Homo sapiens: one gene and its partners. The protein of the gene in region 1 interacts with the protein of each later gene in a pairwise test. Each region holds a gene or a part of one and is shown on either strand. Other genes may lie near its edges.

Region 1 (5,820 bases):
CCTAATTTCAATATTGCTGTGTCTCAGGAAATAGGGAGACCCAAGGAGAAGAAGAGAGATGGGAATAGCCAGTTGGTGGTACAGCATTCAAAACACACATTTATTGATTAAGTTCACCATCTCATATGGGCATGGTTCATGGCAACCCAAAATGATTACAATTGTTAACACCAAAGATCATCGATTACAGATCACCATAACAGATATAGTAATAATTAAAACATCTGAAATATTTCAAGAATTACCAAAATGTAGCACAGAGACACTAAGTGCACACATGCTATTGGACAAATAGCACGAAAAGACTTGCTGGACACAGGGTTACTGAGCACTTGCAATGTGCAAAAACGCAGTATCTATGAAGTGTGATAAAGTGAAGCACAATAAAATGATCCCTGTAATCACTAGAAGGAAGGTGAGAAAAAAAGTGAGGGTGGCTATGAGGTCATTCACATGGAAAGACCTACCGTAATGGCAGAATTTGGAGGGGTAAGAAAATTGTGAGTCGTATGTCTGAGTTCTTAATGAATATGAGAGAGTGCCAATAAATCACAGCAATCAAGAAATATACAGGCTGGGCGCGGTGGCTCACACCTGTAATCCCAGCACTTTGGGAGGCAGAGGCAGGCGGATCACCTGAGGTCAGGAGTTCAAGACAAGCCTGGCCAACATGGTGAAACCCCGTCTCTACAAAAATACAAAAAGTACCTGGGCATGGTGGCACATGCCTGTAATCCCAGCTACTTGGGAGGCTAAGGCAGGAGAATCGCTTGAACTTAGGAGGTAGAAGTTGCAGTGAGCCGAGATTGCACCATTGCACTCCAGCCTGAGCGACACGAGCAAAACTCCATCTCAAAAAAAAAAAGAAAGAAAGAAAGAAAGAAAGAAATATACAGGCTGATAATATAAGTGAACCACAAACTTTCCACAGGAACTGAGATTTTTTTTAAAACCTGGAGGACTAATGGATTATAAACTGTGCTGGGGAATAAGGACAATGCAAACTCTCTCCCCAGGCCGATCATATTATAGGAGAATGAGTTTCCCATGTTTGAAGATGACTATGAGTATTGTAGGGGAAGATGGCTGAAAACAGAAGTGTGGATACTATGGAACAGAAGTTAAAAGGCACACAGTGAGGACAACCTGAGAAAATACAGATCATTAGGAAAGACTCACAAGATATCAGTGTAAGACAAGATAAAAAGAAGTCTTGTATTTATGATTATCCCTAATGGTAACAAGAATGATGACCACGTTTTCCGGTTTCAAGATTCCAAATGAAACTTTCTTTATTCATAAGGTGAGGCACCAGGCACTGTGGGAACCCTACTCATACTAAAGGACACCTAGTGTGTTTACTGGAGGTAAACTACAATAAAAATCATTGATCAAAAGAAAAAAAAGTAAAAAAAAAAACCGTTGATCAGATCTGTAGATTACATGAGGGGCTGTGATAGGGTGGGAAGGAAAGGAAAAAGTGAGAAACAGACCCACACATCTTTTAAAATTAATAGGTCATTCAGATTCCAATTACCCTCCCCATCTTCCAACCCAAACCACTGTTATAAATGCTGGGGACAAGTATAAGTTATGGCCCAAGGTGGTGGCTCTCAACCATATGTGAAAAAACCACGCCACTATTGCCTCAGGTGTTTGAGCCATTCTCCTCCACAGATCCCTTGAGACCTAGAGATCAGGGGCTGCAGAGGTCAGGACAGACTGAGGTTATGAGGGTGTGGGAGGCCTGATGCCACTAGCAATCGACAAGTTTAACCTGAAAGAGGGAGACAAAAATACAGTCCTCTCAGACAAAAAAAGGAGTTAATATTGAGTGAAACATACAGGCAAGTTCAGGGATGGAGGGAAAGGAAAATGAGGAATTTCATGCCCCAAGCTTCACATTTCTCCAGCAAACAGCGGCTAGTCATCTGCTCAAAGTAAAAGGAAAATAACAGATCTGAGTTCTTGAGAAAAAGGGAAAAGACTAAAATAGTCACTGTGGAGATAAGGAAAAGCAACAAAGGAAAAATAGAGATACCAAACAGTAGTATCAAGGGCCCACTACTGTGTAAAAGCATGAATCTGTTATCAAGGCCATTAGCAAAGTTTTATATTTTCTTCAAAAGTGTCTGGAAACCACAGAGTACAGTCAATTTCATACACGATATGTGCTACAAGAGAGTAAACAAAGGATGCCATGACATCAGAGAAGAGACACTTGAGGCTTTCTGGAGGACTTAAGCTTTGAAGAAAACTTAGCCAGGCTTAAAAAGGTATGTGAATCCTAGAGCATGCAAAGCACTTTCTGCATTAGAAAATTTAACATTCCCAGTTGTTTCAGATATCTTAAGCCGAACGAGTTTATTGTTCCTCTATGACTATCTGAACATGAAATTAAAACTTCTTATGAAGGAGGCTTTCCTGAGTCTAGTTAGAAGCACGAGGCTTCAACATCCTAGACTTAACATTTTTTTACCAGAGTAAGAAACCATGAGAGTAAACCACAATCCACACCGGTTTCATGTTAAACTCATGAAACCAGACAAATTCAACCTTTTATATAGGATTATATTTCAGGAATGGCATAACGATTCTAAACAACGACGCTGTATTCTAAATTCCTGTACTGTTACAAAGATCCCTATAGTAGGCGCTCAACAACTGGCGACGGCTTCACATTTACCCAGCCGCCAGAGAGGGCTTGTCTTGAGTGTGTCTGAGGATGCAGCACCCAAAGGGAAAAACCACTACATGAACAAGATCAGGAAATCACAACAGCATCCTTCTGGGTAAAAGGAGGTATTCAGAGGTGAGGAATCCAAGAAACGATTTACCCAAAAACGCCACCGCAAGAGAAAAACCAGTATTAGTGACTTTCCCTTCATCGGTCAACAATAATAAAAACGCTCAGAAAGGCTGCCCCGGACGTCACCTGCGCGTTCACGGACCGCCCCGGGCCGCAGACACCTCTCCAGCGGGGAGCGGCCGGCTCGTCCCGCCCGTCCCACCGCTCAGGGAAGGTTGCGGCCGCGCAGCTCCGCGAAGGTGCCACGGCGGGCCCGACCCTCAGACTCGCTTGTCCCTGGAGACCAACCCTAGCGACCAGGCTCTGCCGGATCCCGTCGGGTTTCAACTCCTATTCCGAAGGTCCTTTCTCCCCTAATCACAACACCCACTCGCCTCTTTTTCCTCCTCTTCCTCAGCTTCCACCGCCGACCGGGCAGCCCCAGTTACCCGATAACGGCTCCCAAGGCCCCGTGTTTACATTCTTTCCCACTGGAAGCAGAAATTATCACGCCCAAATTCCTACCTGCCTTCCCTGGATTCCTGGTTTCCTAAGAAACGGGTTTGGCCCACCCCTGGGCGTTCGAACAGTCCACAGAAGCGGGCAAAGGAAAGACGACTCAGTCTTTCCCCTCCGCCAATCTCTTCTCCGGGACCACAAATCCCAGAAGTCACCGCGGCCGCCCCCACTGCATGACCTTCTGGGATTTGTAGTAGTCAGGGCCACGCGGCTGGGCGCGCCCTCTAGCAGCAGCCCTGAGTGACCGCAGCGCACGAGCGCGGGAAAATGAGGCTGCGCGGGCTGAAGAGCGCACCGAGAGGAGCCGCCCCCGCGGTACCGCGCAGCCTCGCGTCCCGTCAGTGGGGAACAAGGTGAGGGGAAAACTTATTTTACGGGATTCAAAGGATTAGGATATGCTCCTTCCCCGAAGGGGTTTATAGCCTAGCTGATGAGGTCGGCCAGACGCAGAGAACAGAGAGGCAAAATTCGGTTATAAAGGGCTCGAGGCGGCCGGGCGGGGAGGCTAGTCAGGGAGGCTCGAGGCTGAACTGCAGGCTTCACGTTAAAGTTACAAGTGAGTTGGACCCAGAAGGCAGAATTACAGCCAGAACGTAGCTGTGCATCATGTCTTGAAAATAAACGAGCACATGTAATAAAGGTAATCAAGATTGTTAATTTCTCCAACTCTCCTGCCCAAAAGACTCATTTTTGGAAGTCATACTTTCTCAGCCTCAGCACCATTAACATTTCAAACTGGATAATGCTTTGTTGGGGGACGGGGTGTTCTGTGCATTGTAGGGTGCTTAGCAGCATCTCTGGTCTCTGTCCACGGGATGTCACCACCAGTCGATTGTGACAGCCAATGGTTTCCCCAGTGAAATTTCCCCTGGAAGAAAAACTATCCCTCCCACCCTGCCCCGTTGAGAACCACTGATGTCGACCAACGATTGTCCTGAGGGTCAATGACACCCTTTCAAAGCCAAAATTATTTTCATACTAATATGAAGACGTGATTTGCCCTTTGCACAATGCTGACATTTGCACTGATGGTGGAAAAGCAATGGTAGGTCAAGGTGCTGGCCCCTCCACAGGAATTACAGTAATGACACCAAACCGTACTGGAGCTCTTCACCACCACACGCTCACAGTAAGAAAAATGGGCCGGGCGCGGTGGTTCACGCCTGTAATCTTAGCACTTTGGGAGGTCAGGAGTTCGAGACCAGCCTGGCCAACATGGCGAAACCCCATCTCTACCAAAAATACAAAAATTAGCCAGGCCTGGCGGCACGCACCTGAATCCCAACTACTCGGGAGGCTGGGGTGGGAGGATCCCTTGAGCCTGGGAGGTCGAGGCTGCAGTGAGCCGAGGTCATGCCACTGCATTCCAGCCTGGATGACAGAGCAAGGCACGGTCTCAAAAAAAAAAAAAAAAATGGAAAAATGAACGCTGTCACCAGAGAATATCCCTGATGAAGTTGTAAAAGTTACTTTATTATAACCACTCCGACACTTAATATTCTTTGTAAAAACTTGGAAGTCCTCACAAAGTACTTCTGCTGCATATTGAAGTATGACGTATCAAAGAAGAGCTACTGTGAGATGGCATTATAAACTGAAGTAAATACTTTTTTTTCCTGGAACACAAATTTTACTAAGATGAGTGACAAACCGGTTATTCGGACTTGGGTATTTGACAAACCTTTCTTGAAAATGAACAAAGGGAATCTGTAACTTCAAGAAAAACAAGGAAAGGGAAAGGGGAAGGGGAAAGGAAAGGAAAAAAGAGAAATAGGGAGGGAGGGAGGAAAGAAAAAAAAATTGAGTTTGTTGCCAATGATAAAATTCAAGATTTTAGGCAAAAAAAAAATATGATTTTGGAAAAATGGTATTCACCATAATGATCTTGGCAGCTTCCCAGTATCTCCAGAATTTTCTGATATAAGTGATTATCAGTTGTGACTTTTATTTACATTGTTTGCTTAAATACATCAATATTTGTGCAGGCTGCATAAGTGAACCAGTAGTATTTGAAAACGATCAATGCATGACTGCGGTAGCCAGCCTCCAAGATGGCATTCACTCCTGGCATTCACATCCTTATGCACTGCCTTCCTATATTGTACCACGGTTGGTCTGTGTTACCTACAGAAGAGGGCAGAAGTGACCGTTTATCACTTCCGATATTAATTATGAAAGACACTAAGATGGTGGCAATGTTTCTTAATCTGCCTAGAGGTTTACATGGTCATGTTTCCTGTGTACCTGAAATACTGAAAACTCATTAAGCCAAATACTCATTTGTGCACTTTTCTGTATATATGTCTATGAAAGTCTTAAATAAGAAAACATGTACCTCCCTAACAAGACATGCAGAGGGAAGATTTATCTTATGGTCACATTCATAGTGTCATTAGTTCATAGTAGCCAATAAGAAGGAATAGAGGTTGCAGAGTGAGTAAATGGTACTTGAAGCTGTGCCCCCTACCTAGGGGTCTTTGCTAAATCTCTCAAGTAACCTAACCCTGATCTCC
Region 2 (3,500 bases), on another chromosome or scaffold:
TGGCATGATTATAGTTCACTGCAGCCTCAACCTCCTGAGGTCAAGTGATCCTCCTGCCTCATCCTCATGAGTAGCTGGGACTGCAGGCACACACCACCATGCCCGGCTAATGTATTTATTTATGTATTTATTTATTTTTTATAGATACGGGGGTATCACTGTGTTGTCCACGCTGATCTCAAACTCCTGACCTCAAGTGATCCGCCCCCTCCTCGGGCTCCCAAAGAGCTGGGATTACAGGCATGAGCCACCAGTCCCTGCCCCTTGTTAGTATCTTAAACCCTGTCCACACTTCTGTAAATTGTCCCTTCATTCAATTCTATTTGGGTAAAACCTTTTGAGTGTGCCTCCTGATTCCTGCTGAGACCTTGACTAAATGACCTCTAGACAGATAATCCTAGGCTTCAAGTTTTAAAATAGTAGTTAAAGGTTTATCTAACCTGTCCAGGCAGCCCCAAGAAACATACACATTCAGAAATGACCCAGGTTGAATTCTTTGATATCCTCCATGATGCCTTTCTCTCATTCACAATTATTCTGGAATGAGATTTCTATGTGCTATACATTTAAAATTTATGCTAGTTCAGGTTTAGCAGGTTGACTTTGGCTTAAGTCAAGTGGAGAAAACACCATAGGTCTCCCCATCCCCTTCACACACACCCCCACATAAAGACATACTCACTTGCCATTGTTAAATATGACAGTACAGTTGGGCCAACAGTCATGGTTCACCAGGCCCAGGTTGGGGAAGATGCCTACGCCCACGGCCTGCAGGCCTCTCTGATCACTGAGAGTAAAACCGTTGCAGTTAATCTACCCAGGGGAAAAGATGAAAGAGTCAGTCGACAGACATGGACAGAACAACATCCTAGCTGTTGAAAGGAGTTTTAAAAAACAGAAGACCCAGTCTCACCCTGGAGATGCTTAGGGAGTCTGGACACAGAACAATTAGTCTCCTGTTCTCTGCGTGACTCCAGATGACACACAAGATTAGGGCCATGGAACAGTCCCATACCTGCAAAAATGCAGCCCTACCTTGAAAGTTTTTTGTGGCTCTATTCTAAAAGAGTCAAAGGTGGAAATATTTTCCTTTTTCTGTATCTGGGTCTTACATGAGTATTCCTCAGTCTCTGTCTTGGTTTTTCTCTCTGTACCCTGCTTTGTGTGCGCGTGGGCGTGTGTGTGTGTGTGAGCTTTTCCTTCCCCTGTTTCCTCTGCCTACTCAGTTTAAACTCCTGTAGCTGTTCATAAAAAAAAATTGACATCTCTTTTGATTATTTTGTATCTGGTGCATAGTTTTATATTCCCTGCTCACAGTTGTTAAATCTGATGAGTGCCATATTTAACACTTATCTCTGAGATTCAAGGCAAATCAAGTTGGTTACTACTGATGTGGCATCCAAGTGATTTTCTTTTCCTTAAAAATAAATTTTTCTTTACAGAAACAGACACCAAATATCTGCTCTCACAGTAGGAAAAATACATAAGAATAAATATAACGTAGAATACATTAGTAACTGCATGCAGATTTCCACTTCATCTATAAATACATCTATGAATACATGCTGTACATAACAGAAACTCAGTAGACATTTATGCCCTCACATGGATATTTGTCATAGATATGGAGGAGTGTCACTTTCTCCATTTATTCTCATCAGACATTTAGTAAGTTCATGATGTTAAGCCTCTGAGTACCACTAACAAGCTGTACTACTTGGAGCAAACTTCTTTCTTCTCTGAGCCCTGGTTTTCCCATCTATAGGTTGAATAAATTGGACTAGATAAGCTCCAAGGATCTTTTCAGCTCTAACCTTTGGTAATTATATGACCTCTAGCCCTAGTCCCCAGACCTATCAGGGATGCCGAAGATTACTCAACACACCAATTCACCCCAAGGCTATAGAACATAACAGGTAAAAGTAAAAGCTTAGGCCAGGCGTGGTGGCTTACGCCTGTAATCCCAGCACTTTGGAAGGCAGAGATGGGCAGATCACTTGAGCTCAGGAGTTTGAGATCAGCCTGGGCAATATGGTGAAACCCTGCTTCTATAAAAAAAAAAAAGCAAAAATTAACCAGGCATAGTGGTATGCATCTGTGGTCCCAGCTACTTGGGAGGCGGGAGGATCACTTGAGCCTGGAAGATGGAGTTTGCAATGAACCATGATTGCACCACTGCACTCCAGCCTGAGTGACAGAGTAAGACCCTCATCTCAAAAAAAAAAAAAAAAAAAAAAAACAGGTAGAAGCTCTGGCTCCTGAAAATACAGACTGCTTCTAGACTTTCCCTGGGCACAAGCTGACCATGTGGCTTTTGGAGGTCATGTAACCCCTCTGGGCCTAGGTTTTCTGTTCTATAAAATAGAAATACTGAAAGCATGGACCTTACCTTGTGTTGTAAAGATTGTGTAAAATAATACATGGGAAGCTGTGGTGGTTAATTTTGTGTGCCCACATGGCTGGTCAATGGTGCCCAGATATTTGGTCAAATACTATAATGTATGCTTCTGTGAAGGTGTTTTTGGATGAGATTCACATTTAAATTGGTGGAGTTTGAGTAAAGCAGAGTGCCTGCTAGAATGTGGGTGGGCCTCATTTAATCAGTTGAAGACCTGAATAGAATAAAGACTGATCTCCCCTGAGCAAGGAGTTCTGCCAGCAGAATGCCTCCGGACTTGAACTGCAACACTTCCCTGATCTCCAGCCTGATGGCCTACCTTGCAGATTTTGGACTTACCAAGCCTCCACCATTGCGTGAGCCAAATCCTTAGACTCAATCAATCTCTCTCCCTTTGCCCCCCAATATGGTGAAGACTGGAGAGATGTCAGTGTGATGTTTGTCCTCCTCCGTCCTCAGCCTGCTCACCTTCACCACATAAAGGTCCTGGCCTACCAGATGGAACACATCCATCCCCACAGCCAGGACCTGAGCCTCCTCATCCACCGGGTTCTCGCCCCCACTTCCCGGACTCTTATGGCCTCGTCTGGCTTGGTTGCTCCCACCCCAAAACCCTGACTCCCCTCTCTCTGGCTCACATCCCCCACTGCTCCAGGCTTCACATCAATCCTGCCTGGCAGACCTGGAAAAAGGTTTCCAAAGTGACTGGTGGGCAGGAAGGGATAGTGATTGGGGGTCTTTATTTTCAACGTGGAGAGGAAAAAAATGTAAAAAGTGCAGATAAGTAAGAGGATAAATTACCATCCAAATCTACCATCCAGAGATGGATAAATAAGTAAAATTTGTATGTGGGATGCCAATTCAGATACAGCAGGAATGGCCTCACAGTAAACAAGGCCAGAAGACAGAGTCCAGGATGAGGGGTCTTCACTTCAAACTCCTGTCCTCCTTCAGTCCTCTTGGCCTCCCCTCCCAACTCTGGCCTGACAGTTTCTGGAAACTTCTTAGTTGGACGATCCCAGCTGTCACCATGGCCCCTCCTTGATAAGGAATCATACTCTAGAATCTCCGGATTTTATTAGTTGGGTCATTTGGAGGCCTG
Region 3 (3,500 bases), on another chromosome or scaffold:
AAAAATTTCATAAATTTGACTACATAAAATTCTACAGGGAAATTTAAGAATAGCTTTTTAAAACCCTAAGAAAATATATTAGTAGCATCTACCCCCAAAGTCTAATTTTAATTCTATAAAAATTCTTACAAATAAGGAAAGCAATAACATAAAGGAAAGATGGGTAACTTCTATGAACAGACAAGTCACAGAAAAAAGAGACATTAAGTCACCATAAACATAAGAGCCTCTATGTTACTCAGAAATCCAAATCTCAAAAAGAGACTATTTCAACCAATTATACTGGCTAAAAATGCCTAACTAACTAAATGCTGGTGAGGTTGTGGAAACAGTATAAACTGATTAACCTGTTAGATGGGCAATTTGGTGGTATTTATTAAAAATTTAAATACACACCACTCTCACCAATTCTATTGCTAGAAATCCATCTTGTTAATATACTTATCCAAGTATGCAAAGGGATGCTCTAGACTCACCAGTGAGTACTCATTTAAATAGCACCCCAAAACAAAACAAAACCTAAATGTCCATCTGTATGGAGAGGATTAAAATTTGGTATAGACATACAAATTCAACCGTGTATTTCAAAAATTAATTCCTAGATCTTGATATGAATCTATAAAGAAACCTAAACAATATTTTGCAGAGGCCACACAATTCCTCTTGGAAACTTACGAATGACTCGCACAAACCATACCTGTCCTACTAGGAGAGCAGCTGACACCTCTAGGGTCATCACTAACATCACCTGATCTATGCCTACCATCAACCTCACTGCACTAAGGTGAAGACGTCCAATCCCCTATAAGGCTTTACTGCCTTTACTGACAAGATTGGTTGACAATACCAACAGGGAAAGACAGAAATCTTAGAACTTCAAGATGCTTTTCCCAAATATCCAGGTGCATCAAAGGAATGGGAGTTTTCATGCAAAGAATACAGTCTGAAACAGGTTTGGAAGAGGCAAGCTTAGTTCTAGGTCAGACCCACAGGACGTGGGATGAGGGATATATACAGGCATTCGTTAATGCTGCATTGTTCTTATTCTCTATCTCTATATCTGACGTGTTTCACAAAAAAAAAAAAAAAAAGTGCTCACTTCACCAGCAAACGTAACTAAAGCAATATTTAAAAGATGAGTAAAAGCTAGTACAAGGATGGTATCCATAAAGTTGTTTTAAAATCTTATTTCTAATATTTACTACTTTCAAGTTGTACAAGTGTCGTCCTTGAGGAGAAAAAAAGGTAACACAAGAGCACCATAAACAGAAAGCAGAAAGGGGGTATCAAAAGATGCAAGTGGAGAGAAACAGAACTGGGAAGACGAAAACAAACTTCATTGCTTTTTAAGATGTGGGCCATCCCTAGGAGCAGGAAAGACAACGTATCTTTTCTTCTGTACCTACTTCCTACAATACAAGGAGGGTCCATCCAAAGGACCTAAACCTCGTAAGTCCCATTCCTATTACAATTCAAGTTTAATTAACCCAGGAATTCATGACCATTTATAAGCATTTCCAAAACTGGTAAATACAGACCACTGCCAATCTGCAGTATGTATTCAGTATTTATGCAGGCTTTTTGTTTTTTTAAGTTTTGGCTTTATTTTCATGTTTTAGGAAAAACATAGCTAGCCTATTAAAACTGAGCTGTGGACATAATTGCTTAGGATATTTCTAAAACGAATGTTTCAGGTAAAAAAAAAAAGTGTGGGGAGGCAGATTTAAAAAAAATATCATTTAATGGATTAATGGTGCTGTGGTTTGAATATTCCCTTCAAAACTCATGTTGAAATTTAATTGCCATTGTGATGGTACTGGGAGTTGGGACCAGGTGTTTAGGTCCTAGGGCTCAGCTTTCATGAATGGACATTATCACAGCAGTGGGTTCGCTTGCTCTTCTTTCTTTCTCTGGCCTTCCACCATGTTAAGACACAGCAGGAAATTTTTCATGGTAAAATGCTGGGGTGAACACATTTAGGTTACCGAAAGCACTTTTGGTACCCTGAATACAGCAAATATTATTAAGACTGCACATTAAATTATTAGGAAACATTAACTTAGAAAATGGTTTTCTAATAAAAATGCTCCCAACAGCAACTTAAAAACTCATGAAACAAATCATTTAGAAGTAGAAACTCTCACAACATCAAATCATTACAAAGGCATTGTGAAATGTCTTTAGAAATATTTACTTACAATTTGTAACATTTGGGGCTATCCCGCGTATGAATTGAAAACCCTTCACTCAATCGAGTATCAGAAGCAACAATTGCAAAATCTTCTCCAGCAATTGCCAGTATAGTACTGAGGAAAAAAGAAAAAAATTAATTCTCCAGGGTGGTAATCCTATCCCTACAAATAGAAGAATGCTCCATAGTACATAATGGGATAAAATACTCTAGATGTCAACAAAAACATGATTCAAATGGGAAGAGGAAAGATGAGCGGGAAGAGAATGAACGCCTGGCTACGAGTTGTCTGGGAAAAAAAAATTATTAATAAGCCTAAATCAGGGCAAAGTCTCCTTGGCAGGAGTTAACAGAAAAGCCAATGAATTATCATCACCAACACATTAAATACTTACTCGCGCAAGGTACTACTAATACAGAACAACTAAATACCACATCTGTGCCCTTGAGGATCAGGTATAGACAGTGGTACTACAACGCAAGCTCTATGAGTTTAGAGAAGATGAGATTTTTTTTTCTTGCTTCATTTCTTTATATCCAAGTCCTTATATAACGCCTATATAATGCTTATTTCTTTATACCCAATCCCTTATATAATGACAAATAGATGGACAAACAGTAAATTTTTCCCTCTGTGGCTGTACAATTTGACAGCTTATCAAAGAGACTTACAGTAGAATTCCAAAAGCAGACCGCCTGGGTTCTAATTCTGGCTTTCCCGTTTCGCAGATATGAGACTGTGGGTAAGTTACTTCTCAAAGCGTCAATTTCATCATATATACAACAGAGATCACTGCAGTTGCTACCTCATTAGGGTGTTCAAAGGATCAAATATGTAAGCCCTTATAGCAGTCCCTGACATGTAACTGGTCCTCTAGTAAGTGTTAGCTATAAGTGCTATGGCACTGGAGTATGACTAAGCACCTGGGCTCTGGAATTACATGAGACAGAGACCCACTCTTGCTACTTACTAGGTATGTGATCTTGGACAAATCCTCCAAATGCAAGTTGATGATAACAGTACCTGTGTCACAAGGTGTGTATATATATTTGGGTGTGTATATTTTAATGTACAAGGCTTGACTGATAACTATAACCACTGCTTCAATGCAATAGTGGAAATTAAAGGCATGGTGCCTCACAGACGTAAGCACTCAGGAAACTTAAGCCACTATTTTTACTGAGGAGGGATTTGTGCTAAAGCTCTCAAGAAGAAAAGGATGGCATTCCAGGTAATATAAACAGCAAGCAATGGCAAACAGGTAATTATTCAAATAGTACATACATTCAAGCAACTCATTCAGGCAGC

What was found.
Region 2: the proteins of TTC33 (region 1) and SMYD1 interact in a two-hybrid assay, tested with the Homo sapiens proteins (one large-scale study listed by BioGRID and IntAct).
Region 3: the proteins of TTC33 (region 1) and PSMB1 interact in binary tests that used the Homo sapiens proteins (3 or more experiments, as listed by UniProt).

The regions. Positions count from the first base shown.
Region 1 is NC_000005.10:40,752,511-40,758,330, forward strand, and holds the start of TTC33 (tetratricopeptide repeat protein 33), read right to left. Parts: upstream 3,452-5,820; 5' UTR 3,314-3,451; exon of another isoform or gene 3,184-3,313; intron 1-3,183.
Region 2 is NC_000002.12:88,088,325-88,091,824, reverse strand, and holds part of SMYD1 (histone-lysine N-methyltransferase SMYD1), read right to left. Parts: intron 814-3,500; coding exon 683-813; intron 1-682. UniProt on the Homo sapiens protein: Methylates histone H3 at 'Lys-4' (H3K4me), seems able to perform both mono-, di-, and trimethylation. Acts as a transcriptional repressor. Essential for cardiomyocyte differentiation and cardiac morphogenesis.
Region 3 is NC_000006.12:170,546,808-170,550,307, forward strand, and holds part of PSMB1 (proteasome subunit beta type-1), read right to left. Parts: intron 2,307-3,500; coding exon 2,199-2,306; intron 1-2,198. UniProt on the Homo sapiens protein: Non-catalytic component of the 20S core proteasome complex involved in the proteolytic degradation of most intracellular proteins. This complex plays numerous essential roles within the cell by associating with different regulatory particles.